2 separate regions of the Homo sapiens genome follow, and region 1 is linked to region 2. A link means that fine-mapping ties the variant in region 2 to the plasma level of a protein whose gene starts in the linked region. Region 2 holds a variant in brackets. A gene starts in the other region. All regions are shown on their reverse strands.

Evidence for each region. A credible set is the group of variants that fine-mapping cannot tell apart. PIP is the posterior inclusion probability: the model's chance that the variant is causal. Protein levels are from antibody-based Olink assays in UK Biobank. Linkage for the fine-mapping came from a reference panel and not from the study's own genotypes, which makes the PIPs less certain.
Region 1: it holds the start of MEGF10, and the variant in region 2 is the best candidate, but not a certain one, in a credible set for the plasma level of the MEGF10 protein (UK Biobank, PIP 0.53).

The regions. Positions count from the first base shown.
Region 1 is chr5:127,284,695-127,300,420 of GRCh38, reverse strand. It overlaps MEGF10 (multiple EGF like domains 10), which reads right to left and starts at 9,625. Exons shown (of 25, transcript NM_001256545.2): 1 at 9,365-9,625. It overlaps LOC105379199, which reads left to right and starts at 9,685. Exons shown (of 4, transcript XR_007058921.1): 1 at 9,685-9,843.
Region 2 is chr12:3,275,236-3,290,961 of GRCh38, reverse strand. It overlaps TSPAN9 (tetraspanin 9), which reads right to left. Exons shown (of 9, transcript NM_006675.5): 4 at 12,350-12,541; 5 at 11,896-11,970; 6 at 10,479-10,580; 7 at 9,633-9,764; 8 at 9,145-9,228; 9 at 4,403-7,917. The coding sequence ends at 7,846. Among named protein-coding and RNA genes, the nearest start is that of LINC02827, 17 kb to the left of the region's middle. RefSeq lists enhancers at 5,735-6,235, 6,236-6,736. The variant T/C (reference allele first, on the strand shown) is at 7,777.

The sequences.
Region 1 (15,726 bases), not on the chromosome of region 2:
TTATATATACTACTTGGGACACAAACAACAACAGTAAAAGGGACCATTTAACTTTCCTATTTTTAAAAAAAGTGCTGTACCTACACAGAACTTCAAGGATAGCACAGTATTCGGGCCTGGAAGCATTGAGGGCAAGCCTCTCTATATCACACAAATGGGGAGCCAAATGAACAGGCCTAATGGCAACAAATTGAAAATTAATGAACTAATCAGGAGAGTGTTTAGCACAGTCCTTTCGCCACCCACGAAGTCTCCTCTTCCCATTCTCCACTTCAAAGTCATCTATATCATTGGCAAAACCATTTAGTAAAGAAGAAACAAACTGTAACAGAGGGGGGGAATGAAAACATAATGAAGAAAATAAAGCTACTTGCCTCTCTGAAATCCGCTTGCTTCTCCTTCTTTAATGGATTTGCAATGATAATCTATAATCAAGGTACAATGACAGACATAATTACTAGGAGCTCTAAGTGACCTCAAGCAAATCACATATTGCCCTCTCCTGGACACAAACCTCTTATCTCAGAGACAAAAGGATTCCTACTGGCCAGGGAACACCAGCTGCCTAACACTTGGTGTAAATGGGCTCTCCAGAACCCATCACGTCCAGAAAAGGCTTTCCCTGTTCTGCCTCATTCAAGTCTGTATTCTGTGCCTAACTTAAAAAAAAAAAAACAAAAAGGAAAGAAAAGAAAAGCCACCTACAAGTATCCACAGGAACTAGGAACTAAGTCTCCCTTTGAAAGAAACCCAGAGGCAAAGGCTGAATGAATGACATACTTTTTCATAAAGGGAGTAATCAGGCTAAAAGAACAATCCTGTGGAAAAAGTCTGTGACCTTTGCAAAGGCTGTGACCTTGAATTTGAATCTTCTTCTGACACAAAGAATGTAAGCAATTGTTGGGCTCAGGATTAGATTTTTACAGGAAGTTTGCAACCCTTTCCCTCCAGGGCTAGAATCCAGTTTGAAAGTTAGGGGTGAGGGAGGGTATCTAGATGGCATCTGGAGAGTCCCCCAGCCTCATAACTGTCCAAACTTATCAATAACTTTCTAATGGCACTCATTGTATTTCAGACTCAAAAAATTCTTAGCTTCAAAACAGCTATCTAGATCTGGAAGGGAATTATTAATATATACACAGTGACCATTCCCAGGAACACAGAATTGTTCTCTGAAGTCATAGACCTTGATTTAGGCAGGCTTTCAGATCAGGTACCTTTGATGAGCCTGGGGACACAGGGAGGCTTTTTTATTTTTTAAATCAGTAATAAAATCCTGCAATCAGATAAGTCCTGCAATCAGTGTGACGCAGTAGAAAATAATTCTTCCTTGGCCAAAGATCCACTGGCTTTTTGACAGACTTGTGTTCCCCCAACGCCATGTCTGCAGCTCCAAAACCAGAGGATTAATGATGCTTCCTTGGAATTACTTTTTTCCTTCCCAGATCCTACCTCTGACACATTGCTGCAAGTAGTTTAACTGTGGAAGGCCTTGACCTCCTTTCTTTGTCTCTCTGATTTAAGTGTGTCTGTTTCCTTGGGGCTACCAAGCTCAGTTGGACGGCTGGCCGCAGCAGAATGGCACATCAGCCAACCCCTGAACAATGGGTCCTTTACTCCGGCTGTCACATGAACAGCGTTGTGTTACAGCCATTGTCCCTTCAAGTAGAGAGGAGAGGCATGGGTTCTCACAGACCAGCTATTCTCTGTGACCCCCTCTGGCCAAGTCACTAAAATTTAAAAACACACAAAAAAGGCATGCCTTTTGAATGGGGCACTATAAGTCCAACAAGGATTATCATGCATATATGGGCCACCTGCATCAGCACACCTTGTTAAAAATACACATCCTGGGACCCCACTACGCACCTACCGAATCAAAATCTAGGGAGGAGCCAGTATCTGCAGGTGATTCTCGTGCCTCTGAAGTCAGAGCACAGGGTAAACATGCCTCAAGCATTTCTAACCTCACTCATGGTCTGATTTTGCACATCTGTTTAAGGAACCAGCTGAAAGCAGGGAGGATACTGGAAGGACAAATACTTTATACTGTGGTTATCAAATCTTAGTGTTGGGGGAAAAACACCTGAGACGAAGACAGGTGAGAACGATGAGGGCTTCAGATGATAATAGGAATGTGGGTGTGGGTCATCAGTGAGCAAGAGAGGAGGAGTGCAGGGACAGCAGGACAGCGCTGAAGCCACCTGGTGGAGGTGGTAGCCTTCAGAAAAAGATGGGCGGTGAGAAAGTGGCAATGGTAGGATGAACTGTTAGAAAGCAAGGATGTTTAACATTTAGTTCTAAGTGTTAAGATATGAACTCTTTCCATAGTCCCAAACCTTAAAATTCTAAACACTCAAGCCACACATTTGGTGGCATTTTATGAAGTGAAGGTTATTCGTGGCTGGGTGAGTGGCTTCGGATCATTTTAAACTTCTTAAGGGAAAATATGAATTCAGATCCAGGTGACACTAGAAGAAACATGAGCCCTGTCTCCGTCTCTAGCCCCAAGAATCCCATAGTGGTTGAAAGGAAGAACAGTTTTCTCATTTTACACCTTCTCATGGAATAGGGAGGAAGATTTCTAGCCAATTTTTACTTGAATCTCAATAGGTCCCCCTAATCCCATCTAGTTTCTATAAAATAACTGCAGTGTAATGTGAAGGGTTCCTTTAACGCAGATAGTACTATGGGGATGGGCAGGTCCTGTAAGTGCCTATTATAAAATTATTCTCAAATGTAAACTCACCACTACTATGGAATGGTTTAATCACTATTGCTTGAAGATGCTTTGTAAATTCCTGCCACCACATGTTTGCTGAGCCCATTCCCCCACCTAAGATGCCCCATCCATTCAAATCTCTCCTTCAAGGTCCCACACTGCCAGGAAGCCTCCAGTGAGCTCTTGTGGCAGCTCTCAAAACTGCCACTTGGCTCTTACTATACCCAGGCTTACCTGCTCAGTTGTTGTTTTTTTTTTAATTGTTGAGGGTACATAGTAGATGTATATATTTATGGGTTACATGAGATATTTTATATGGGCATGCAATGTGTACTTTTTTAGTCTGTTTTTTCCTCGAAGGCAAGAGCTTCTTGGTAATTACACATGGTATTTTCCCCTATGCCCTACACAGCTAATAAATATCTGATAAACAGCCAGGTGCAGTGGCTCATGCCTGTAATTCCAGTACTTTGAGAGGCTGAGGCAGGCAGATCACTTGAGGTCAGGAGTTCGAGACCAGCCTGGCCAATATGGCAAAACCTCGTCTCTACTAAAAATACAAAAATTAGTCAGATATGTTGACACATGCCTGTAATCCCAGCTACTCGGGATGCTGAGGCAGGAGGATCACTTGAACCCCAGAGGCGGAGGTTGCAGTGAGTTGAGATTGCGCCATTGCACTCCAGCCTGGGCAACAAGAATGAAACTCCACTTCAAAAAACAAAACAAAACAAAACAAAAAAAACTGGTGGAACAAAAAGTAACTCTCCAACCTATTACTTTTTTAAAGAACCAAGTCACATATTTTTTATCAATTCTTCATCCAAACTCAAGTACTTTTCTCAAGATGTCAATAGGGGTGGATATTTAAATTTTTTTGTTTTGATTGTAGGATTAGTCTTCTGTGCCACCAAGCAAAAATTTCATAGTTCTATTTCACTCTGTGAGGAACAAGTTAAATTTGTGTGTTTTAGTTTTCAATTTGCCATCAAAAATTATTTTTTAAGAAAGCCAAAATTCTTCAGCAGAAGGTATTCAAAAGATCCATCTTGGGAACCACCACCTGTGGCTATGTTGAGAAACAGCCAAATCTGTACAGCTCATCTGGGTCAGATGAGACATTAATGACAAGGCACTTAGTCATCCTCTAGGATGTTCCCAAAGATAAGATGTTTTTAACAGATGCTAATATCCTGCACATGTACCTATCAAGATGAGGTTTTCCATACTGAAATACTGTTTTCTTTGTCTTAGAAGTGGGAAGGGGTACAATTTATTGCCCTCTAAGTAGGAAATTGAGGTGCTTAAATGCTTTACATAGTTTCTTTATCTAGGAGTATAAATCACTAGAAATGAAATAAGAGAGGAAATCACTAGAAATGAACAACCATAATAACAGGATGTATTATCACATTCACACTTTCCAGATTGGCTAATGCCACAGAGTTTGCATTATCAAATAACATCCACACAGTGACTTGCCATTCCACAAATAAAGTTCTATAAAGTAAAATAACATTGGTTTGTACCTTCTTTTTCCCTCATAGTATGAGAAATCCTTTTACTAAATGCTCTAAATTAGTCCTCTGCAATAACTATATTTAAAAAGAGTTAGAATGATCATGGTGAACAATAATGCAAAATGGTAAAGAGAGACAAAAGGTAAATTAAAAATTTCAGGACATTCAGATATGAAGAATGAATGAATGACTGAATAAAGAGATTAGGAGAGCAGTTAAAAGACTTCCAAAGGTTGGCAGAAAATGATACAGGCTTATGCTAAGCTAGAAAAAGTTCATTTCAGAAACATAATTTTAAAAGAAGACAAATCAACAGAACCCAGTGAATCTTGTATTAATTCTTAAAACTAAACTAATTATTAAAACCAGATACTGGGTACACACCCTTGAGAAACTGAGAGTAAAGGCAGTCCTCAATATTGCTTCGTTTGAAGTCCATCAATGTGGATATTTGTACTACATCTATTGATGCTACTACCTCCCTGCCCTGTGTCATGATGACACTCAGATGCCAGCTAATGAATGAACTTTTTATGTTGTTTATTTTATGGTGCAGCTGCCCTAAGCCAATAGTTCAATTTTTGCAGAATCACCATCCTTGTCATTACCCAGAGAATTATTCATTCACTTATTCAAATGTTACTGCATATTTTCATTATTACAAAAAAGTGAATGGGAAATGGGAAAATTAAAAGCCTAATAGTAATTATGAGAAGTGTTTGTCTCATAAACTAAGTAAGACAAAGGTAGAAGTTATTAGACATGCCAAAAATGGCAAATCTTTTCATCTGAATCAGACATTTATTGAACTTGAGCTGGTCAACTGTTATTGAAATGAGGAGAAAATAACCAAAATTGTGTAAAGTTTAAAGAAAGAAAAATTAGAAAATGGAGTATACACTGAATGCTGTGTCTAAATAGCAAGATATAATTAGAGATTTCATAATATATTTGGCTTTCTATGGCCAGAATCCCCTATAATATGTAGGCTTTTATACAATCTTCAGACCTATTTTCAGGAATGTGTCCTTTCAGGAAAGAAGGAAAGACAGTATTGAACCAGTCACCATGTTTCTGATCAAATACAAAAACAGAAGCAGAAGTGTTTTATAAATGGAAAAGCACAGAGCAAAGTTGGTTTTTATTGGCATTGGCACTTCCTTTCCAGTGCTCTGACACGTCATTCCAAAAACCAAACCAAAACCATCCTAAAGGATAAGCTCAGCTCTTCATTATACTGCCTGCAATAATGTTCAACATGTAACATTAATTCAGTGGCATTTGGTGTTTCATAAGTCCTCTTAGGATATTCTGTCTTGTCCTTTTTCTACTCCAAGTTATTTATTATTATTATTATTATTATTATTATTATTATTATTTGAGACAGAGTCTCACTCTGTCACCCAGGCTGGAGTGCAGTGTCGCGATCTCAGCTCACTGCAACCTCTGCCTCCCAAGTTCAAGTGATTCTTGTGCCTCAGCCTCCCAAGTAGTTGGGATTACAGGTGTGTGCTACCACTCACGGCTAATTCTGGTATTTTTAGTAGAGACAGGATTTCGCCATTTTGGCCAGGCTGGTCTAGGATCCCTGGCCTCAAGTGATCTTCCCACCTCAGCCTCACAAAGTGCTGGGATTACAGGCGTGAGGCACCATGCCCAGCCCCACTTGAAGTTATTAACTTCCTAGGCTATGTCTAGCCAAACTGGAAATTCCCAACTGGCTTTTCCACACCCTCCATATGTATACAATACTGTCCCAACCACTTTGTCTGCTAAGAAAATGTTGACTATCATTCATCCATTTACTTTTCTCCAACATTCTCTAGGCATTTATTCCATAACTACTATGGGCCAGCCACTTGTATAAGAGCTTACAATAAGGAATGATGAACTCACCAATCTGTTAGGGATAAACATTCAGATAATAAATATGGCTGATACAATGTGATTATGCTATATTAAATCTATCCACAAGAATGGGAACTCGCATGAGATATCGCTAAGTTTATGAGATAATTGGGAAAAACTTCAGAGGGAAAGTCTTCAAAGGGATTTGAATAGTGTCTTAAAAGATGAATGGGTGGTAAGTGGTTGGTTAGACAGGAAAGAGGGTCAAAGACATTTTCAGAGGAAGGAACAGCATATACAGCTGGGTCATGGAAGAGTGAAAGTGCACAGCGTATTCTTGAGATAGTAACAAGATCAAGATCAGTGGGAGCTGGAGAGCTGGGGACCAGAGAAGCAGAAAATAACCCTGAGAAGTGCTGCAAAGGTGGTCTTGTGTATAGCGGTAAGGAGGTGAGACTTTATGCTGTAAGCCAGTGTTTCTCCAAATGTGATCTGACGTCAGCTTTACCAGGTTCACCTGGAGATCTCAAAATGCAGATTACTGGCCCTTACTTCTGGGGTGAAGCCCTGGAATCTATATTTTCAACATGCACCCAGGTAACACTGACATTCACCATCCAGAGAGCTGCCAAAGATTTTTAAACAAGGGAATAACATGATCAGATTTGCATTTTAGAAATACACTATTAAACCAAGCAGACAATCACAAAGAAGGTAAATTCACTGCTGCTAAATGAGCATGTGACTTGAGTTTTGCATTAGAATCACCTGGGGAACTTGTAAAAATGCAGACTTCTCACAACTCACAGAAGACTTACTACTTCTAAATCAAGGCAGAAGGGATTAGGGTTTGTATAGTTTGAACCATACAAAATTGCCATTTATTTAGGTCAAAAATGGTCAAATATCAGCAATTTCTCATAGTTCACTCTAATATTTTAACAAATCTCCCCACTTCATGCTTCTGGTATAAACCAAAGTCTGAGAATAGTGAAAGACAGACAGAGATAAACGCTTTTCCCTTTTCATTAATTATCGATGTTGTTACTCACTTTGATGAATATGCAAAGATGGAAGTAACGTAATTTATGTACCTAAAACAAATGTTAAAAGAGAAAAGTGGGGGTTCAAAAACAGCCACCAATGAAGTAAGGCAGCTAATTTAAGGATTTTGGAGCCAGAAGGAACACTGGAGGTTATTCTACTCTTTCCCCACCTCTCAACACAAGTTTATACATAATAAAACTGATGCCTAAATGGAGAAAAGCAATCTGCTTGAGGTCATAGGGAATATTTTGTTCAATTTCTCAATGATACGTGCTTTTTATGTGCTCTTATGAGCATTTTAACAGGTATGGAAATTGTGTAGCTAAAAATACTTGGGATTTAATTTATAGAGTGCTAGGTCACACACTTGAAATGGGAGGAGGCACATAAAGCCAATACTCATGCATAGCCATTTTTAAAATATAAAACCTAAAACAGTGCTTGACATGTAATAGATGGTTAATAAATACTTACTGAACAAATGAGTGACCTCTAAAAAATAGGTTAAAGAAAGTATATTAATGTAAAGGATTTCCAAGGAGGTATACAGGCTGTGAACTGAGTGTAGATTTCCCACCTCCTCACCTGTTCCAAGTAGTCTTTGGTGCCCATCCATGACCCACCACCCTATAAATTCCAGCTCTGCCATATACACCTTTATTTTTCCAACTGAAAGTGCCACAACAAAAAAGCAATACAAAGATCATGTCTGAGCTAAGTTTGACAATAGGTGGTAGTGAAGCTTACAGATGAGCACAGTCTTCAAAGTCCATCCAAATAGGAATAATAGCTAACACTTACTGACAGCTAATAGAAGCTATACTAGAGGGATACAACAATAGTTAATGCTAGCTATACAATAATAATAAAGCTAATTTGTGCCTACTATGTGTCAGGCTTGTTAGTCCTTCACATGCATTAACTTACTTAATCCCTTTAACAATTGTCTGATGTAAGTGCTATTATTATCATTTTGATTTTACATATGTGGATAAACAGATTAAGTAACTTACCCCAAAATCACAGAACTGAAAAGTGGCAGAGTTGTGAGCTGAACCCAGGCTGGCGGGTGCCCAGAGTTTACCAACTGAACTCTTTGAACTCTCAGTGGTAAAATTAAAAGTTCCCTGCAAGCTGACCTCTTGGAGCACTCGTGTCAGGAAGATGACATTTCTGGATAATATAAATTGGCCCCAGTATTTCTGTCCATAAGGAATGAAGCATTTTTATTTGGGAACCCTATACACAAAGTGAGACCCAGGATATAAAGGAGTAAGGCAAGAAGAACAAGAAGAAATGTCATTCTCTTCTGCCTTGGCACAGCATGGTTATCACAGCCTAAGAACAATAATAATGGCTAATTTTGGCTAATAAGATCTCCAACTTTGACTTTCTCCTAAATAATGTGGGTCCTTGCGTGAGGATATTTTCTAAAGAAGCAGCAAAGATATTGCCATCATTCATTTGCTCAGTGGTGTCACTAAGAAAAATACTTCCAGAAAGAAAATTAAGGCCAAAACACTTCCTTAAACCAGGCGTAAAAGTCCTCTAACAAGGAATTTAAAAGAAAAAGATCAACACCGGATTTATCTTTCTTAAGTAACTATCACTTGAAAAACCGTCCCTCCCAGCACTCCTTAAGGAGCCAAGCATACTGACAAGGCCCCTTTGGTCTAAGACTGCGACCTCACACCCCTACTGATCGCTGAGAACTCAGGAAAGGGGAGCATCCCGCCAGCCTAGAGCGTTATCTGCACAATCTGAATACCAAGGACGGGAGAAAGAGAAGTTTAGAAAACAGTGAAGATCCCAGAAAGGAAGTTCAACTGACCTAGAAGAAAGGGCCCAGCTGAAACTGCCTTTCAAGCTCAGTCCGATTCCCCACAAATCTCCCTACATCCAGCTATATCGCCCGGCAAAATGAAACAAACACAAGGTAAGGCAATACAAGGGCAGGAATTATGCAAAATAAAATGCGTAATGAGGATGTCTCTCCATCAAAAATACTCCAGGATTTTCCTACACAATCCCATGTAACAAAACCAAATGCAAACAACAATAAACCCTTAAGAAGCGCATGAACAACGCAGACTGAGCCCATCTCGCCCCACCTCACGCCGCACCCCGGTACCCTGGCTAAGGAAAATGTGACCCCCGCCCATGAGAAGCCTTCCGGCGTCCGGCCAAGGTCCAGGAGCCGCCGGAGTTGAGTTTGCCCAACTCTTACCCAGGTCCAGAGATCTTGAGAATCGCAGCGCAACCTTTTCTCCCCGGTCTTCACCCAAAGCCAGCCAAGACACAAAATCTGTTCCAATCAACGCGGTTAGCGTCCAAGCAGCGTCCCAGAAGAAAGCAATCTTTGGGAGTCTTCTTTCAGGCGTAAAGGTGGAGAAGCGGGAAAGAGGAACGTCTCAACGCGTTCCCAGTCGCCCAGTTTTGCGCACCGGGAAAGTACTTGCTGCAAACTTGAACAAGGTTTTCTCTGTCTGGCCCGAGATGCTGGAGGGGGTGGGGGCGGGTAACCCGAGCCGGGGCCGGGATTCGAGCAGTTGCCGCTGCTGCAGCTGCTGCTGCCGGGGCAGTGGCCGCTGGGGGGTTGTCGCTTGGCGCCGCGCGCAGTCCCTAGCGCAACATGCAGGATCTTCCCGGCCTGACTGCTGCACCTCGATCGTGAGTCGCCCCTGCCTGAGCGGCTTCCACCGCCTGGTGGGTGACCCCGCCAAAGGCCTGGTCGCGAAGTTAGCAAATGTTGGGGTCACCGCAGGGGGTGACCGAAGGGGTGTCAGAGTGGGTGCCCGCCTGATTCCCAACCCACGTTGGGTGCAAGTCCCTCGGCAGAGTCCCTGGGAGGTGTTCTAGACCCTCTGTAAGGATTTGTGGGACGGTGGCCGGCGCCCGAGCGGCCAACTGGAGTGGACGGCGGGTCCTCAGTGGTGTCAGGGGAGAAAGCGCAAAGGTGGGACCCAGAAAGGATGGTGATTAAGCCGTGCCAGAGAATGTGATGTGGCAGCAAAGTACATGGAAAGGTGGGGCGGGGAGGTGAAGGCAGAGGGTGGAGGGTGGGATAGTCTGCTTTACCATGGAGGGGCGGAGAGAGAACTCCCCGGACGCGCAGGAAAATCCCCCCAGGTCCTCGGAGGCCTCGCGCGGCAATTTATTGGGGAATGGCTCCCTCTGCCGACTCGCCGAGGAGGCCCCGGGAGGCCCAGTGATGGAATGTTAAAACCATGAACGGGCTTTTCCATTTGTGGGTTAGACAGGACATGAATTCTGGAATCTGCTTCTCTGACTGTCCATCTTCCTCTTCCAGACTAAAGAGTTTTCCAGCTTTTACAGGACCCCAAAAGATACAAATTTGACTGCTGCAAAGTTCTTTCTTGTGTCGTTGAATTCTATCCCCCTCTCCCCACAAAAAAACAAAAACAGGTTTAAGCCCCATAACCACTCCAGGTAACCATCTCCTACCAGGCTTCTCTTCCTCCCATTAATAAGAACTCTTTCTTTTTAGAGAGACTTCAAGAGCGTTCGAGTCCCTACTCAATAACGCTCCTGGAAAATAGTACAGACTCCATATTATGTTTGAGTGAATAAATGAATGGAATGAATGAACATAGATATGTTTGAAGCCCCTCACCATCCTCTTTACTCTCCCTGGAAATACACAGGGGAAGACTGTTTTGGTGTTTGTTTATTTGTTTGTTTAGCAGTCATCATTGCCCCTTCTCTGGTAACAGTACCTCCATTTTTCTTTGAGATACCATCCCTGCCACAAGGACAGCAGTCTGGGTGGAAGGTCAGTCAGGATGGTCCAGCTTTTCCCTGTCCAGAAGAGAGCAACTGACCTCAGCTAAGCCCCTCAGGCCCTCTCTGCCAGGAGTTGGAACTTTGATCTGGGCAGCACAGGCACAAATAATTCTAGAGGTGATTAATCCATATGGCTGTTTTCTAAGGAAATTGGCTGTTAGTTCATGCCACTTATTACCCAAAGATATTTTGCTTTATGAAACTTGGTTGCCCCACTTTCCTTTTAATTTTTTAATCAACTTTATTGGGGGATAAGTTACATTCCATATATTACACTCATATTAATTATACAGCTTCATGAGTTTTGAATAATGTACACACCCATGTAACCACTGCTTCAATCAAGATAATGAACAATTCCATCACCTCAGAGGGTTGTCTTGCACCCCTTTAAAGTCAACTTCTATCCCACCTCATATTTGGCCCGCTTAGCTGTTTTCTGTAACTACAGATTAGATTTGTCTTTTCTAACATTTCATATGAATGGAATCACTTACATATTCCTTTGTGTCTGACTTCCTTCACTCCACACAATGTTTTTGAAACTCATTAATGTTGTGCCTGTATCTGAAGTTTGTTCCTTTTTATTGCTGAGTAGTATTCCATTGTATGGATATACCACAATTTGTTTGCCAGTTTACCAAATGATGGACATTGGGGATGTTTTCAATATGGGGTTATTATGAATAAAGCTGCTAGGAACAATCTTTAACAAGTCCTTTTGTGGACATACATTATTATTTTTCTTATCTTACAGGAGTAAAATTATTATTACAGTAACTGTGTGTTTAACTATATAGAAAGATGAACTGCTTTCCAAAGTGGAAAACATTTTACATTCTCACCAGCAAGATATGATAATTGCTTCACATCCTCATCAACACTGGGTAGTTTCTGTCTTCTTATTTTTGCCATTCTAGTAAGTATATAGTGGTATCACATCGTGGTTTTAATTTGCGTTTCCTTACTGACTAATGATGGTGACCATAAAAGATGTTTACCAGCTTTTCATGTGCTCTCATGCCACCTGTTCTTTGATAAAGTGTCTGAATTTATTGCCCAATTTTTAATCAAGTCTTTGGATTCTTATTATTGAGTTGTAGGAGTTCTTTATATACCAGGCATTTGTTAGATATGTATATAACCAATATACACTCCCAGTCTGTTTCTTGTCTTTCAATTTCTTAATAGTGTCTTTCAAACAGCAGTTTTTAATTTTGATAAAGTCCAGTTTATCAAGCGTGTTTTTGTGTGTGTGTGTTGTACTTTTAGGTTTTACATAAGTAATCTTTGCTTACCCCAAGGTCATGAAGATTTTCTATGGCTTCTTATAGAAGTTTATAGTTTTAGCTGTTATATTTAGGTCTACAATCTATTTGATGTTAACCTTTGTGTATGGTATGAAGTAAGGGCTGAGGTTCATTATTGTCTACATGGATATCCAGTTGTTTTGGCACCATTTGTTGAGAAGATTATCTTTTTTCCCATTGAGTAACTGGATACCTTTATTGAAAATCAATTGGCCATAGATGAGTGAGTCTATTTCAGGATTCACTCATTATTCCTTTCATTTGATCTATATTTCTATTCCTATGCCAAAACCATACTGTTCAGATTGCTATAACTTTATAATAGGACTCCAACTTAGATGTAATAAGTCTTCCAACTGTGCTTTTATTTTTTTTCAAAATTTGTTCAACTCTTCAGCTTTTGTTTTTGTTTTTATTTGGTTTTCATCTTCCATGTAAATTTCAGAATTTGCTTGTCAATGTTTTAAAAATTCACTTTTCTAATTGAGAGTGCCTTGAATCCATTGATCAATTTAAGGAGAACTGACATAAAAATATCGATTCCTCTAACCTATGAACATTTATCTCTCCATTAATTTAGGTATTCTTTAATGTTTCTCAGCAATATTTTGTAGCTTTGAACATGGCAGTATTACACACAATTTAAAAAATGAATCCCTAAGTATTTTATTTTTAATATTTCATAAATGGAATTATTTTTGAGTTCTTGTTTCCAATTGTTCATTGCTAGTATGGAGAAATACAGTGGAATTTTGTGCAGTACCCTCACATTTTGCAACATGGCTAAATTTACTTATTCGTTCTAGTAGTTTTTCTTTTTCAGTTTGCTTAGGATTTTCTACATGCTCTGCTTCTTTTATTTATTTGTCTTGCCTTATTTCACTGGATAGGATGCCCAGTACAACATTGAATACAAATGCTAAAATTTAGTATCCCATCCTTGTTGCTCATCATAAACCAAAGCAATCTGTCTTGTACCATTAAGTAGGATGTTAGTTGTAAGTTTCATTAAACTCCCTTTATTAATTGAGAAATTCCTTCTATTTATAGTTCACTAGAAATTGTTTATTTTACCATGAGTGACTATTTAATTTTGTCAAATGTTTTTCTGTATCAGTTGAAATTATTATACGGTTTTTCTCCTTTTTTCTGTTAGTTAACTGAACTGCTTATTAAACTTGCCTTGCATTCTTGGGTTAAAGCTTACTTGGTCCATGTAATGTATTATATATTTGATATACTGTTGGATTTGATTTGCTAAAATTTGTTCAGGATATTTGTGTCTATACTCATTAAAATTATTGGTCTGCATTTTTATTTTCTTGTTATCTCTTTGATTAGAAGTTCATCAATTTTTAAAAATCAATTCAAAGGATCAGGCTTTAGTTTCATTGATTTTTTTCTATTACTTACACATTTTCTACTTTGTTGATTTTAGCTCTTACCTTTACTATTTCCTTCCTTCTATATACATTAGATTTATTTTTCTCTTCTTTTTTCTTTAATTTCTTAAAGTCAAATTTTTGCTTATTGATTTTTAGATTTTTTTCTTATACAAGCATTTAAAATTATAAACTCCTCTCTAATAATTACTGTAACCATGTTCCACAAATTTTGATAACCTGTTTATATAGTTCAAAATATTTTTTCTTTAACCCATAGGTTATATAGAACACTGTAATTTAATTTCCAAATTTCAGGGAATTTTTTAGGTATTTGTTTTATTGATACATAATGTTTTACATATTTGCAGAATTCATGTGAAAATTTGTTACATGCATAGAGTATGTTACAAGGGGAGCATCTCGGGTATTCATCACCTTGAGCATTTATCATTACTATGTGTTAGGAACATTTCTAGTCCTCTCTTCTAGCTACTTTGAAATTACAACACATGGCTGCTAACAATAGTCACCCTTCTCTGCTACTGACCATTAGAACCTACAACTTCTATCTAACTGAATATTTATACTTATTAACCAACCTCTCTTCAGGTCTCCCTCTCACTCACACACTCTTTCCAACATTTGGTATCCATTATTTCACTTTCTACCTTCAAAAGATCAACTTTCTTAGCTCCCACATATGAGTGAAAACATGTGATATTCCTCTTTCTGTACTTGGCTTATTTCACTTAATGTCCTCCAGTTCCATCCATGTTGCTGCAAATAACACGATTCCAATTTTTTATGGCCGAATAGTATTCCACTTTGTGTATATACCACGTTTTTTAATCCATTCATCAATTGATGCATGCTTACATGGATTCCATCTCTTTGCTATTATGAATAGTGCTGCAATAAGCATGGGGCACAGGTATCCTTCTGATACATTGATTTCACTTCCTTTGATTAAATACCCAGTAGTGGGATTCAGATATATTTTTATTTATTTTAATTTAATTTTATTACAGCCAGCAAGAATAGTTCATCTTATTTCACTGCTTTTAAATGTGCTGAGACTTGCTTTATGGCAAAAATATGGTCTTTCTTGGTGAATGGTTCATGTGCACCTGAAAACAATGTACAACTGCTGCTGCTATTGGGTAGATTGTTCTAAAAATGTCAACTGGGTCTCATTAGTTGACACTGTTCATCAAGTCTTCTATTTCCTTACTAATTTTTACTATCTTTATTCTGAACACTACAACATAACTAATGCAATCTTAGATTAAGTAGACTTTTTTGTTGGTGGTAACTATATCACTCTGTTAACATAGAATTTATAATCTACTAAAATTCCAATTATTTTTCATATTTGCTATTAATCTTGACATCTTAAAATATTATTTGTATTTTTAGTTGAGAATTTCATAGTAATATTATAAGACTATTCATTTAGGTCTATCAAATTCCATTTTTGTATATGCAGTCCATCTTTAGAACCTGTCAAGGGCTTGGTGGAGCTAACTCTTTTCCTAGTATATTAGCTAGGCAGGTTGAAATCATGATATTGGGAATTGATCAGAAAGCCACGATGCTCTTGAACAAATAATTATTAGACATGTAGAAGCAGATAGAAATAAAATGCATATTCTAACGGAGACTTTCCTCTCCATTTATATTTATTCACATCCTGTAGTACAGTCATTCAACTGCTGATAAATTCTACAATTCTATTATTACATCCAGTCTGCTTTCTTCATCTGATCCACAAGGATTTTATGAGATATTTTTTCAATTACCTTATAAATCCAGAGATATTCTCATTTGTTCCATTTACCTGTCTGCTAATATTTTGAATAAAGAAAACTAAGTCACCCTACCAGTTCTACCTCTTAGCAAACAAGATTGGCTTCTTATACCCATAATTTCCTTTCAGTAGTGCTCTCAAATTATGCTTCTAAATCTATGATTTAAAAGCTTGCTTAGTTACAGCAATAGACTAGAGTTCACAGAGTTTACCTTCTTCCCACTTAAAAAAATAGAAGTGGGGGTTACAGCAGAGTGTAAACTCATAAGTATGGCAGAAGGTT
Region 2 (15,726 bases):
ATTGAGAATAGCTCAGGAATCTCTAATCCTCCTTTAGAGAACCCTGAGTTGGAGGCCAGAGGTCAAACCCAACACACTCTCTTGGAGGGGCCATCTGGTAAATAAGAAGGCTGAGTCCTTTCAGGAACTAGGGTCCCTTGCCAGAGAAAAGAAATATATTGAGAACATGTAGACACTCCCTGACTTACGAAGGCGTCACATCCCAATAAACTCATCATAAGTTGAAAATACCATAGGTCAAAAATGCATTTAATACCCCTAATGGCCGGGCGCGGTGGCTCACTTCTGTAATCCCAGCACTTTGGGGGGTCGAGGCGGGTAGATCACGAGATCAGGAGATCGAGACCATCCTGGCCAACACGGTGAAACCTCTTCTTTACTAAAAATACAAAAAATTAGCTGGGCGTGGTGGCGGGTGCCTATAGTCCCAGCTACTCGGGAGGCTGAGGCAGAAGAATGGCGTGAACCCGGGAGGCGGAGCTTGCAGGGAACCCAGATCACGCCACTGCACTCCAGCCTGGGTGACAGAACGAGACTCCGTCTCAGGAAAAAAAAAAACCCTAACCTACAACATCACAGCTTAACCTAGACAAACTTAAATGTGCTCAGAACACTTGAATTAGCGCACAGTGGGCAAAATCATCTAACACAAAGCCCACCTTACAGCGAAGTGTTGAGTATCTCATGTCGTTTATGGACTGCTGCACTGAAAATGAAAAACAGAATGGTTGTATGTGTACTCGAAAGAAAGAGATAAGCGTTTTTACTGAATACCTATGACTTTCACACCATCATAAAGTCAAAAAATCATAAACTGAACCATTATAAATTAGGGACCAACTGTATTCTGATTCCAGAAATTGAGTGGAGGAGTTGAGGTGGGAGTAGGGAGGCAAAGGACAATGAGCTTCCTGAGGTCATTAAATCAGAGCATGTGGGCTGCAGTTCCCCTCGACCACCAAAGCTAGCCTGGCCTTGCTCTGGACACTGCTGTAGGCTGTTCCAGAACTCAGTAACCAGAAGAAAAATCTCCGGGCAACAGGTGCTAACCGCAAGACCCGGCCACAGGCCACTGTGCGGCCTTCATGTCCCCGTTCACCTCTCTCCTCTGCACATAGGGCCAAGGAAAACGAGGCAGTGCCCAGCTCTGCCCCAGCTGGCTCTCAGCTACCTGGTAGTCTCTGGGCTGCAAAGGAGAGGTTCCAGGGCGTCAGCTTCAATCAGGAGGGCTTGGCTCCAGCGTGCCCTGTGGAGTGCTGTTACTCTTTTTGTTAGCTTTAGGAGACAATAGTCTATCTCGCTCCTGTCATTAAACTCAGCAAAAATGAGATGGCTAAATCAATAGCCTACCAAGCTTTGCTGACGGCTTTAAGAAGGGACCATCGCAATGTCAATATTTTTGTGTCCAAAATGACATTTATTTAATCTGGCTTCCTTCTTGCTTCTGTGGAATATTGAGTGTTGCTGCTGAGCCAGCCCAGGGCAAAACAAAGGCATGGGGAAACCTGTTCCCTGAGCCCCTGCGGGCAGCTCACTCTCCCTTCATACACCAGCACCCCTTCCCAGACCGCTCTCCTGTGTCCTTGGGCTGAAAGCTGCTCTTCCTTGGGGTCCTGCCTTTCATGTGGCGACCCAGGTTCAACCAATTTCTTGCCAAGCACCTATCCTGCTCCAGGAACAAGCCGGATGCCTCTACATACATGTCTCTATTTAATCCCCACAACAAATCTATAAAATAGGCATTATCCTCATTTGCAAATAACAAAACCAAGACAAGTTCCGAGGCTCACAGGGACACCAAATGCAAACTGGGAGTTTAACCCGGGTCCTCTGGCACCCACATCAGTGCTCCTCCCATGCACACCTTGGTGCATCTCTGATGGTGAAAGTTTAAGCACAGTGACAGCTGATAAGACCGTTTTGGTCAGGAGGAGCCTAGATCACATTTATGGAAGCATTTTGCAAGCTGTGCAGCTCAACACAAACAAAGAGATTTAATTGCACCATGCTGATCTCTGTCATCTCCTGCACAGAAGCACCGAGCCCAGAAAACACATTCATCCATCCATTTGATGCAAACAATTAGTCATCTGCCTGTCTGGGTTGAGGGTGTCATGTTGGGCGAGTGGCAAGAACGCTCCTTCTCTTTGCATAAATCTAATTAACCACCAAGGCTCGCAGATTCTCCTGTGCATCTCTCAAATCTTCCGGCTTCATCTCCATCCCACTGCCCTTCCCTAAGGCTCCATCGTCTGTCACCTAAATCACTGCGGCACCTGTGCCTGGTCCCCCGGTGGCCTCCCCTGTCCCTGAAAACTCTCCACACTGCAGCCACAGCCAGCTTTCTAAAGGCTACATCTGAGCCTGTCACACCTGGGCTTAAAGCCTTTCCACAGCTCCCACTGTTCTCAGCCTGAACTTCAAGTTCCTTGGCCTGGTTCTCAAGGTTGTGATCTGGTGGTCACCACCATCTCCAGACCTTCACCTTCACCCTTTGTGCTCCAGCTCTGTGGACCACAAGCATCCACAGGACACATCTCCTGCCTCTCTTTGCCAGGTGAACACCTCCACCTTCAGCTCTTAGCTTTGACATCACCTGCTCTGGAGACCTCACTTCCCCAGGTTCAGCCAGTGACTGTCCCCCAGGGCTTCCCAGTGCCCTGTGAACATTGCTGCCACTACTTACTTGCAATCACAGGCACTCTTCTGGGGTCCCCACTAAATGGTCGGCTCTGAAAGTGCAGGGACTGGGTCTGTGTCGTCCACGACTGTGTTCTAGGTGCCTGGCACGAGTGAGTATTCAGTAAGTCTTTGGGCAAACAGACATTTGTCTGTGCAAGCGCCACTGTTGGCCCCATGGAAAGCTGGCGGGGCTCAGAAGCCACCCTTTCTCACTTGCCCTTTGCTGAGCACCAATGGGGAGGCAGTTCCATCACAACACACAAGAATGGGGGCGCAAAGGAGGGACCCCCCCCCCCGGGTCATCTCAGCCACTCCCTAGACAGAGGAGCCCAGACCCAGCCCAGAGGTGCTAGCCTCGTCACTAGAAGTCCCAAAGAAGATGCTCCTCTCCCGCACAGCCAGGGCAACCAGAGCCGAGGGTTAAGAGAACAGCCAGTGTGTTCCATTGCCTGGAAGCCCCAAAACACAGCACAGTGACCCAGTGGGCATCTCAACAGGCCTGGGGGCAGGAGCGAGAGTAAGAATGAGCAGAGACAGGGTGGCATCCACCCAAATTCCTATGAGCTGGTTTGTCCTCCGCAGACGATGAGGGGGTCACCTGCTCCTCAGCCACGATCAATCCTGACCCTACAGCCACAAAGTCTCTCTCGGTAAATATCCTGGGGAGGTTCCCAGGGACATCACTCCAGCTGGACCTTAGACAGAGGGTGGCTCAGACTCAAGGCACCGTCTCTGGAGGCTCTGGGACACAGCAGCTGCAGGAGGGGGCCCCAGAGGTTGATGTTTTGGGATAATTCTGTGTGGACCTGGCCACTCCCTTGAGAAGGCGGGAGATGGAGTTCCACAGGCAGAGGGGTTTCAAGATGCTCACCTCCAAACCTCCAACTGCTCTCAGACCCCCATGCACACTCACCCTCACGCCTGCCTCCACCCTGGGGACATGAACACAGTGAGGACCAGCAAGGGGAGTTCTGAGCTTCTCATCTGCAACTTGTCACCTTGACTGACAGCCAAGGAAACCCCACACACCAGGACCCCAACCAAGGCCGCGGGAGACTTCGACTGCAGGAAGGCGGCAACGTCAGTGGCCCAGCCAGCAGCTCTTCCTGCTCGCGGTTTTAATGGCCTTCCCTGCTGACCATCCTCATCCTGATTTTGTTCCTTCTTTGAGGCTGTCCCAGTCACCCTGAAAAGGCCAAGACACACTGTGAGGCCCCCTCAGTCCGAGACATCAAGGTCAAATGAACCCCGGGAACATCACAGGGATTGGGAAGAAGACTGTTTCTGAAACTGACAGCCCCCACCCCTACAGGAAGCCCCTTACCCTACTGGAAGCTGCTAGTGGCTTATTCCATACCCGCCCCACGATACACTTCGGGGCCTGGCCACAGGACTGGCCATGTGTGATGGGTGATTGGTACGGAGACAGGACTTCAGCCTCTCAGGCAGAAGGCCTCGGGCACTGGGACTGCCCCCTGATCCAGCCTGTTTCGAGGGGGGATGTTAGGATTCCTCAGGCACCCAGAGAGGACAGAGACCCTCCCCACGCCAGCAGATCTGTGACCTGGGCCCCAAAAGAGAGATGAGGTCCCCCTGGGGGTGTGTCTTGGATGAAGGGTAGGAGTGGTATCTGATCCCTCTGGGTCCCTCACACCAACCACGACCTAAGTCACAGTTTTGGCTGAGTGAACAAAACACACCACTGAGAGACAGCCTGCTGTGCTTTTGACACTTTATCCGTTTTTATTTAAAAACATGCTAAAAACATGGTGTTCCATAAAGCCAGGACCAGGATGAAGGAACGCACAGATACGGCAATGCAAGCAGAAAGTGCATCTGAAACCAACAAGCGTGCTCACCCTGCTCTCCCTCCCGTGCTGCCCGGGGGCAGGCAGGTGGGCAAGGAGGGGGCAGGAAGCCCCCCAGGCCTCACCTCCTGAGTCCCCAATCAGGGCAGGGAGGCCAGGCCCCACCCTGGACTATTGACTCACTGCAGTGGGGAGGAGGAAAGTGTGGGGCACGGGAACACAAGGGCTGGCCGGACTCTGAGAAGCTGAGGGACAAAGAATGGACCCCAAGCACCTCACGCCCAGCTCCCATCCTATGCCACGTCCCTGCTAGTTAGCACCTCCACCAGTGGGTGGGCAGGGGCTGGAGAGGAGGGGACAGCCACTTCCATCCACCCAGACTGCTCTTGGGCCACCAAAGCCTGGAAAGATGGCCATCTAGTTCCAAGTCAAACCAGGACACCTGCAAGAGGGTCCGGGGCAGGGCCACCTTCCAGAGAGCCTGAGACACAGGCCCATGCTGGAGGGAGAGGGGGGTGACACGGCTCAAGCTGGGGGAGGGGTGCAGGGGGAGACTTGCACCGTGACACCTGCTTCCACCACCCAAGAGCAGTTCTCAGCCTGTGCCCGCTCACCCCCACTGCAGGATGGCTGCAGAGAAAGGCTGAGTCTGCAGCGGATGCCCCCCTGCAGTCCTCTACAAACCCTGAGGGACTTTCTGAGACAAGTGTGTAAATTGCTCACATCAGACCTGATTGAACTGACTCTGGCAAAGGGAGCCGTGAGTGAGGGAATTCTCTCAGGGGAATTCTACCCCAGTGAGATCACAGTCAGGAGAAACTGAAGAGAGGCTGTGCCACCTTCACTGGCATCGCTGGGTGTGGCCCTCTGAGTGGAAGGGGCTCGAAGGAACACCCACTCTGTGCACACAGACTTCCGCCCAATGTAGACTAAGCCAAATAACAAAACGGCCAAGCGCAGAGTGAGTAAAGAAGGCAGCGTGGGGACCTGTAGATGAGGCTCTGCAAACAGACGGATGAGGTGGGGGCTGGTGGGAGCACTGTGGCAAAGGCTCTGGGGCCAGAGGCCACCCCTGAAGTACTCCAGAAACAGAAAAGATTTTCAGGGAGGTTGCACATCTCCCAATGCACTAGGCTTTTGCTGTTGATATTAACAAAAATTAAAAATTGCATTGATAGGCATAAACCAACCCACCCACCCCACCCACAGCAAAAAACGCACGAGGCCCCGGGTCCCACCGTGCAACTGCAGCACTTGTCTGCTGAGTCTCTCCGCCCGGATGTGTCTGCTCCGGAATCTGCACTTTGGGGGTTCCTGCGGAGGCGGCTGAAACTCCTTACCAGGAAGCCAGGCCAGGGGACAAGGGCAGGGCAGCTTTGCTCAAATGTGGGCCTCCCCCACATTCCATCAGCACCACTGCCCCTGTCTCAGGGAAGCGGTCTTCACCCTGCACAACTCACAAGACCACCCTACTCTCCACTCCCACCCCCACAAAACACGAATCCTGATAATGCCAACGGTTCTGTCCTCCTGTTCCCGATTTGTGTGTTACTTAAGGTGAACAGAGGAGTGACTGGTGCTGGGTGGCCGTGTCTCAGCTCTTGGATCAGACAGGCAGGTGGAGGCTGGAGAAGAGACCTGGCCCCAGTGGGAAACCAGGGTGACAAGACAAACTGTATAGGAAAGGCAGCCGCCCACCAAGGCCCCACCTGATCAAGTGCAGCAGACGCTGGCTAGCGGGTGAGGTCCCCGTGCTCAGTCCCACGGATTCGCGACCTTTTTGAACGGCAAAACAGTAAGCCAGACCAGCTGCAGTTTGGAGGGGGCGCCCTGCTGCAGCTGAATCCCACTCCTGGCCTCACTCCCCAGCCCGTTTCTCTCCCATGCCCAGCTCTGCACGTGCGTGACTCCGGCTGCTTTCTTCCCGTGGCTCCGGTAACAAGAGCCAGTCTGACCTCTCTTGGGTTTTCTGTATTTCTTCTCCTTGGGATCACAGATGATATAATCGCCACCCAACCCACTGCTGATGTCCGTGGCCCCAGGGAAGGAGGCGAAGATCTTGGGACCCAGGTGGACGTGATTCCCTCCTTCCCAGCAGGGCAACCCACAGCTGAGCAAGGCTGGCGGGGAGGACCGTGGGTCCTCACCCCTGTGGGTCCCCTGCCACTGTCCCAGCACAGCAAAACCTAAGGACTGCTTCCCCTTCCAGAAGCAAGGGGGAAAGTGAGCAGCATCCGAACTAGAGAGGTATTTGTCTGACAGTTTCTAGCAGGAATGTCTGTGAAATAACTGGGGTGTGCAGAACCTGTTGTGGGAATACCCACATGGGGTGGAAGGGGAAGCCTCGCGTGCCAGCAGAGAGCGGGAGGAAGGGAGAAAGAAAAAACCAACAACTGCTCATCAGTGAAAAGTCTAAGGACCCCTCTAGCTCTGCCACAGCACCGTGGGGCCCCCCTGCCCTGGCATTTCCAGCTCGATTGGTTAGCAAACGCCACCTCCCGTGCAGGGGCACCTCCAGCCTGCTTCACGCTCCACCCGCCTCTCCCAGGCTCCTGTCCTCAGACACCAGGCCTGGCAAGGTCCCGTGTCCTGTCCACGCCCCCTCCTTCCCACACGTTCTGAGGGCGCAGGCGCGCCCCATCCGAGAGCCTCCTGGGTGTCGCACGGTGGTCTGTCCTGATTGAGACTGGACAGATGTCCTCTCTTCCCACCCATCCCTCACCCTCAGGGAAAAAAAGTCAAACCATTAAAGAAATCAACACAGTAAAAAGTTACAAATCAGAAATCTAACCCTAAACTTATCTGAGAGATAATATTCCTGAATAATCATAGAGTAAAATAAAATAAAAAAGTTACATTGTAAGGTATAAAAAGCCTGGGCGAGATGCTCCAGGGGCCTTGCCCAGAGGCCGGCAGACCCCCGCCCCGCCAGGTGCCCCATGGTGGCCATGGATGTCGCAGCCCCCGCTGGGGCGGTATCTCCACGGGGCGGGCACTCTGCTCCCCACCCCATGTGGGGACAAAGTGTCAGTGTGAGGAAGGGCAGGGGCAGAAGCCCATCAGTGCCGGGGGTTCCTCCGGAGCGCACCCCAGCCCACCCTGTCGTCTTTGGCAAATACGCATATGCAGATGCAGGAATCCAGGGGCCCCGAGCCCCAGGTCTCCGTGTGCCTCCTCCTCCCTGGCACTCCACCCACTGAGAAGTCCGAGGCTGAGGCAGGGTAGGTGGGGTAGGGCAGGCTGTGGGGGGTGGGTGCAGGGGTCATATCTGGAGAGCGCAGGCAGG[T/C]GACACAAAGCTCAATCCTCTTCCCTCCACAGGGCAGCAGGGCGGGGTGGGCACTCCCGGCCAGCCCGCTCATGCGTCGTACTTCTTACCAGTCCGGTGGATGTGCTGGAAGAGGGTCATGGAGAAGGCCATGCCCAGGATCTGAAAGACACGGGGAGGGGCCTGAGGCAGGAGCTGCAGCAGCCTGGACCTGACCTCAGCCCCGAGAGGCTTGGGATGTCACAGGGCACCTAGAGCAAGCGGGGATGGCCACTGGTGTGCCAGGAAAATGCTTATGGAATGAAGACATGAAGAAAACCGTGAACAGAGGTCACCCTGGAGACACACACAGGTGAACTCTGGCTCAGCCTCGTGGGGCTGTTAGACCAGAAGCCATCGAACCTCTGCAGGATGCATACGTGTGCCTACTCAGAGGGGCGCTGCAGGCACGGAATGCACGGAGGACCTGGCTCTACGTGGGGGCTCACAGGAGCCAAGGTGGGGAGTGGGAGGTGGCAGGGATCATTCAGGACTCAGGCCAGCCGGGCACGGTGGCACTTTAGGAGGCCAAGGTGGGAGGATGGCTTGAGATCGGCCTGGGCAATAGAGGGAGACTCCATCTGTTTTTGGAAAAAAGTTGTAAATCATTCAGGTATGGTGGTGTATATGCCTGTAGTCCCAGCTACTTGAGAGGCTGAAGTGGGACGATGGCTTGAGCCCAGGAGTTTGTGGCTGCAGCGAGCTATGACGGCGCCACCGCACTCCAGCCTGAGCAACAAAGTGAGACCCTGTCTCTTAAAAAAAGAAAAATAAAGGACTCCTGTCAAGCCTCTCTTGTCTGCTTGTGGAACACATGGTGCGATGTCTTGGCAGCAGCAGGGCTGTCTTTCCAGTGATGTGTGCTCAGGACCACGTCACTACTCGTTTGTGCCCCTTCCCTCCTGAATCCTCAAAGGAGCCGGGGACCCAGAGGAGTGCAGGAGGCAGAAGGAAGCCCGGTGTGGTCTCACGGTCACCACAGAGAGTGTGCCATGTGCACAGGCTGTAAAGATGGTGACCGGGGGACACCGTGTGTGTCTTGCATGGCTCTCTGAGCTCAAGGTTTGGGCAGAACTGGGGGAACCCACGGGGGTTGACTCCAGCTTCAATATCCCAGCCTGGGCCTGGCCACAGGCAGCCCTGAGCACCACTCTCAGTGCTGAGTAGACACGTGCTCTCATATCAGAGCTCTGCGGAAACGGTGGCAGGCACAGCTGCTAAGCTTGAATAGCTGTGATGAATTCCAGACCCTCCGCCGTGTACCAACACTGCTTTCACTTCTCTGTGCTTCCTTCCCTCTGAGGCTGAGGCCAGCAGGGTGGGTGAGGCTGCTGGGGACGCCCCTCTTACCTGCATGATGAGGATGCACATCCCCACCGTGCCCAGCACGTGCTTATTGTCATCGAACCACATCTTCACCTTTTCATAGCAGCCCTGGGGAGCGAGGCCCACGAGGTTAGGGTCCCAGCCCAAGCATGCGCTCCCTGCAGCCCAGCCCCCAGCTCACTCTCTCCTTCCACCTCGTCCTCGCTCTTACCTCCCAGCCCTCCCTGGCCTCAGCCCTGTCCCCATCCCTTGGCGCAGCCTCCGCCCCACCCGCAAGGCCAGCTGCAGAGCCTCAGACCCCATTCAACCCCTCGCCCTCTGACTCTCCCAACTGTGGGTCCAGCCCCACCCCCCATTTTCCACCTGTCTTTTGGCTTTATTTTTGTGAGCCCCCCACCGCCACATTCAGCCAACCTCTTAGTGTCCCGGGCCCAGCCTCCCCTATAGGGCTCCCCGTGCCGGGGCATCCACACACGGGCTCTTGGACCCAAGCGGTCCATCCCCAGCCTCACCGTTCTCCACAAAGGCGTGGTGGCGTTGCGCCCGCAGCCCTGGGAGTTCTCCATGCAGCAGCGGTCGGGAACCGTGTTCTCCCCCAGCACTGGGTACCAGTCTGTGTAGTCAGTGACACCACAGCATCGCATCTGGCCAGCAGGAATGGAAGGGGCAGTCAGACATGCCATGGCCCGCCCCTTCCTCCCCAGGGCCTTCCCCTGCCCAGGCCAACCCCAGTCCCCGCAAAAGTGGCCACCCTGCAGTTAAGGGAGGAGACAAAGGGCTTGCTTCTTGTCCCTTCTTTGGGCTTCAGCCGGGCCCACTGGAGAAGTGAGTGAGCACTCCTTCCTGGAGACCAGAGCGGGAGAGGGCAATGCAGCCCACCCCTCGGGCTGGGCCCCTTGGCTCAGCCCTGTGCTTGCCCACCAGCACCTCTGCTCTTTCTGTAAACCGTCCCAAGCTGACTGCCACCCAACCCCCTGCCGGCCCCTCCCCAGGGCTTAAAATGGGAGCATCTGGGACTATGGACTTGTTCTCCTCCTAGAGCCAGGGCCTCCTCACCTAAGCCAAGCCCCATCATGGAGGCAAATCTGTTGCTAAAATAAATTCAGTCATTCATCCCAAAGCTCAGCCACAGCTCTCTCAGGCCTGCCCCTCCTGTATCCTCATCCCTCCCTGGCTGTACCTTGCTGTATCACATCTGACTCAGCAGTTCAGGCAAATGCCCCCGTGGGTACCACTCCACTCCCGGCTAAAATCCAGAAAGCACAGGTGCCCGGCCAGGTCACCGGGGAAGGCAGCTAGAAGTACCGGCCGCCACCCCTCCTCCCTGCCTGGCCCCACCAGGGCGGCCCAGCCCGCACCTCAGCCTGGATGATGTTCCAGGCGTTCTTCAGCCCCACGTTGTTCTCGGTGTGGTACAGCAGCAGGCCTTCCTTCAGGTCCTTCTTGGCGTTCTCGTTCACCTGCCAGGCGGAGGGACACAGTGAGACGGTTGGAACCAGGACGCAGCTCGTCTCTCCAGCCCACCTCAGGTCACCCAGGATGGTGGGTGACAGATGAGGAGTGAGGAAGGCAGGGAAGGCAGCTGGTCTGGAAGGCCCTGCCCACTGGGGTGGGGGCCTCTGCTGGCCCAACAGAGGTGCGGGGTTAGGCACACACTCCCAGTTTCAGAATACAGCAGGCCCTGGTGCACCCACCGCCTCCCGGCAGAGCTAAACTCAGGGCCAGGGCTGTAACACCCAGAGGCAAAAAAACACACCACGTGCCTCCACTCCCCCATCCCAGGACCAGCCACACACACAGGCCACTCTGCCACCCCCGCCCCCCACTACACAGCTTCCCCACAGACTGCCCCTCTCAAAACACACCCTGGGAACTAGAGGGAGGAAGACAGGTCATGTGACCTTCACCTCCCTCACCGCTGTTCTACCCGATGTTGAACAGCAGCATCTACTCATGGCGCTGTTGTTAGAATTAAGGGAAACAATTCTCATAAAAGGGCCAAGAACAGGGCTGGCACAGAGAAATCTCTCAACATTGTTCTTTCTTCCTTTTCACGAGTGCAAAACTAAAAGATTATTCTTTCTCATCCTAACGATGTCTCTAACTTTCAGTGTGGCTCAGGCAGCTATTTCAAGAACTGCTCCTTACACAGTTCTGGAGTGCATGGTACCAAAGGGCCTGCCACGCCCCAAGAGACTGAAATCCCGGCCAACCTCGCTCTTGACTGCGAACTGCCCAGCCTGGCGAGGTTACAGGGGGTCACCCACCATCCTCCTGAACCCAGGAGCAGCGCCCGTCCTCAAGGGCTCTAGTGCAGGAAACAGAGCTTCCCTGTGCCTCAGTCCTGCTCAGCCAGCGTCGCCCAGAGAGTTCCTCCTTGTTTTTCATGGTTTGCTCTCAAATCACCCAGCCCAACCACCTGATGAGGTCTGAATCCCTTCTCCAAGTAGCTTAATTCCTTCCAGTGAGAGGGAGCTCACTAGCGCCAGAGGCAGCCCACTGCCATCTCTGGTCATGCAGAGGATTCCACTTCCTGGAACTATACAAAGTCAACTCTCCCATCCTCCAAATTTGCCTGCCCCATGCTGCCCCCATCAAAACCTTCCATCTGCTCTTTCCTTGGTAGCTTTCCCAACCCTTGGTTCCATGTTCCTTTCTGCACAGGTGCTGCTTGCCAGCACTCTTCCTCTGGCCAGGGAAGGGACCCTGGCCTGCTTGGCCCAACTCTAAGGGCAGTGACATTCCATATGCCCCCTCCCATCTGGTAAGGCTTACCTTGTCCATGTAGACAAAGAAGAGGATGAGTAAGATCAGCTCTGCTAGGAGGATGACCAACAGGACGATGAAAAACTGGAAAGGAAAGGGCCAGGCATGGGTAGGTGGTAATGGGCAGGGCTGAGGACAAGGAGGGTGTGGAAGGCAGGGACAGGCGGCGCCTAGGTGGGGCTTCCCAGGTCTGGGAGAAGCCAGCTCCTCCTGAGGAAACCCAGATAGCTAGGACAGAGACATAAAGGAGCTGACTAATCAGGGAGTGGGAGGGACAACCAGGGGTAGGCATAACCAACCATGAGGAGGAGGGGTGTGGTCAAGCCTAGAACGTTCTAGAAGCAGTTTCCCTGGGCTCAGGTTGGACACCCAGGTGGCTAATATTCCAGGTCTTGCCTGTCCCAGGGGTCCAAGTGCAAGGAGATCAGGAGTTGGAGGGGCTGGGGATTTGGACAGAACTTACGCTGAGGAGGAGGCACTTGTTTTCCTTGATGGCCCCCAGGCAGCCGAGGAAGCCCGTCACCATGACAATGGTGCCTATGGCAATGACCAGGTTGGCTGCAGACAACGAAGGGAAGCTGGGGGAGAAGGTGGCAAAGTTGCCTTGGGACACGGAGAGCCAGATGCCCACTCCCAGCAGCCCACAGCCACAGAGCTGGAAAGGAAGGAAAGCCCATTAGCCTGGCGCTGCTCTCACATTCGTCCATGGACCTGGGAACAGTGCAGGTCCCCACCCCATGCTCTGAGACACAGACAAAGTGAGAACCGACAAGGTGAGAACGGGACTACCGTTGGGCTGCAGACCCGAAGCATGTCGGCTGTGTGACCCAGACAGTCCCCTAGCCTCTCTGTGCCTCAGTCTCCCCATGTGACAACGGAGACTGTGCCAGTTTCAAGAGCCTCCCAGGTCATTCTGAGGATGGATTAAACCACACAGAGGCAAAAGTGCGTAACAAATACGTGGAAGGTACTGGACACATGTGAGTGGTTAGGTTACTCTGCATGATAGAGAAGAGGCCCCAGTGTCCAAGACGGAGGCCTGGTGAGAGGGGAGAACTGGGGTCAGGAAAAGCAAGAAAGACTTCATCTCTGGAGGTGGGAAGGGACCCTCGGAGTCGGGTTTCTTGGAGCCAGAACTTCCAGCGACTGTGTCCTGTTACTCTGACCCGAAGGGCCATTTGTCCACTGGAGTCTGAAGAACAATTTCCCACAGATGGAGAAAGGAGGCAGTCATCGGCTGGCTGGGGGCCTGGCCAGTGTGCGGGACGTGGGAGTCCACGGCTGCCTTCACCACCCATCCAATAAGCTGGCCTCTGGCATGATCGGCCCCCAAACCGAAAAGCAACTCTCCCCAACAGCACCCCTGGGGCTGCCGGCGCCACCAGCTCCACCTGGGGAAGCTTCCATTTCACCGGCTGCAAATCTCCACATCTGTCTTATTTTATGCTCGATATAGCTGGCACTCCCCGACTCCCTCCGCCAGCTCATGGGAAGTGTGCTGAGTCTGAGGAGCCAATCAATCAGTGAAACAGTATTTACTGAGTGCCTACAGCATGCAGTGTGCCATGCCAGAAAAGCTACAACCACTTTAAAGACCTGTTTTCCAGGGGCCTCTGTTCTGGCTGGATGGGAGCAATCAAAGTGCAAAATCTACCACTCCCAGGTGGGATGGACTGGTGCCCAGTCAACGCTACGGGCGCTCAGAGGAGGCAATCACTGTCGCAGTCATGGAAGCCAGTTGAAGGAGGCAGTCCCTAAAGGGTGGGTGGACTAGGGGCAGATGGAGGACGAGAACATTCTATGCCGGGTGAAAGTGCAGGTGGTAAGGGCTTGGGAGTCACAGACCCAAACAGGACTCCCGGCTCCAGCTTATCCTGGTGGTGTGAGCTTGCAAACCTCTCGTATGCAGAGTGAGAATATCATCCCCTTCCTATTGGACTGCTGTGAGAATTAGATTGGAATAAGCTACGTGAAGTGGGTGGCCAGCTCCGGGCACTGCTTGCTGGAAAGGCACTTCCCGGGCAGCTGTTCTGTGCCAGGGCCTGTGCAGACTATGCTGACTCCAGGAATCAGCCCAGCCCCTGCTCTCAAGCTGCTCTGGTTCCTGGGAAGAAACAGAGGCTCAGGGCTGAGACAGGGCAACCCGCAATTAGGCAGGGTAGGGATGCCCATGGGAAGGTGAGGGGAGGGGACAGACGCCTCCCTGAGGAAGGGCATCTCCTTCGCTTATTCCTCCACAAACCCAAGTGAACACCTGCGTATTCAGTGCCAGGCCCTGTTCTCCAAGCTGGGGAGACAGTGGTACACCTCACTGGCAAAGACCCTGCCTTCACGAAGAGTAGATTCTTACAGGAGACACTGACCTTATGTAAGCAACAAATGACGTAACTGCAGTTGCTGACATGCGCCACGAAGAAAAATAAGGCAATGTAAAGAGCCAGAAAATAACTGGGGAGGGTGTGGGCAGCGAAGGTGTCTTGGAAGAGGTGGTGTTTAAGCAAAAACCCAAATAAACAGGGGGAGGGAGCAACATAACTATCTGGGGGAAGAACGTTCCAGACAGAGAGAACAGCAGGTGCAAAAGCCCCGGAGTGGGAAGGAGCCTGGCCAGCCAAGGAGGAGCACGCTGGCCGTGTGCTACAACAGTGAGTGAGGTGACACATGGTAGGAGACAAAGCAGGCGGGGTGGCCGGGGGCCAGGCCAGCTGGGACCTCGCAGGTAAAGGAAACGTGCAAGTGTCCTCAGTGTGACGGGAAGGTCCCAGAGCTGGAGAGTGACATGATCTCACTGAGGTTTTCAGCAGATCACTCTGGCTGCTGTTTGGAGAAGCGACCGCGGGAGGGCCCGAGGGAGGCCAGGAGAGCAACTGGGAGGCTGCTGTGATTAGGCTTGGGTTTGTGGAGGAATAAGAAGGAGATGCCCTTCCTCAGGGAGGCGTCTGTCCCCTCCCCTCACCTTCCCGTGGGCATCCCTACCCTGCCTAATTGCGAGCCTCTCTTTCTTCCCAGGAGCCAGACCAGCTTGAGAGCTGGGGACGACTCATACCAGGAGGCTACGGAGGAGCGGTGAGAAATGGTCCAATTTGAGATGTTTTGAAGGTGGCATTGACAGGCCTTGCTGGGCTTTGAAGAATGAATAGGATTTTGATAAATGGGGAACCAGAAAGGTGTGCATGAAGAAAAAGGTAGGAACAGACACCGCCACGTATTACTAACCAAGAGACAGTGCAAGGAGCTGCAGGGGGGTCCGAATGATTTACGTCCAGCAGCTGCCTGGGTCCTTCACACTGTGGAGAGTGGGCCTGTGCCTCCTGTCCCCTGGCGCAGCCCCACATGGAACCACGTCAGGGCTCCCAAAGAATGGGCACACTGAGACCCACAGCATCGCCCAACTGGGCCATCACAAAGCTTCGCCAGGGAACGGGGCTAGCCCCGCCTACGGCCACTAGGTGGCGCTCCAGGCTGGTTCAGAAGCTCTGGGTTCGCCAGCGATGGCTGAAACTTTCATCCAAATAGTCACTCTGACTTTTCTTCAATCTGGTCAGTTTCTATGCTGCCGTCTCAATTTTTCTTTCATTAATCATACCATGGAGAATTTATGATCTTCATGCTGAAGATTTATGGCTCTAAAAGCCAGACCCTGGAATGAGTAAGCGGAAACCCCACTGCCGCAGGTACTCGCTGCAGGGGAGCTGCAGGGCGCCCCCACACGCTGCAGCTGGAGACACGCAGGACCCCAGAGCTCAGAGCCCGGACCCTTCTCGGGCCTGGAAAAGTTCTCAAAGCACAGCCTTCTCCTGAAGCGGTTTCCCACTGTGGGTGTACCTGCAGCGGGGGGCC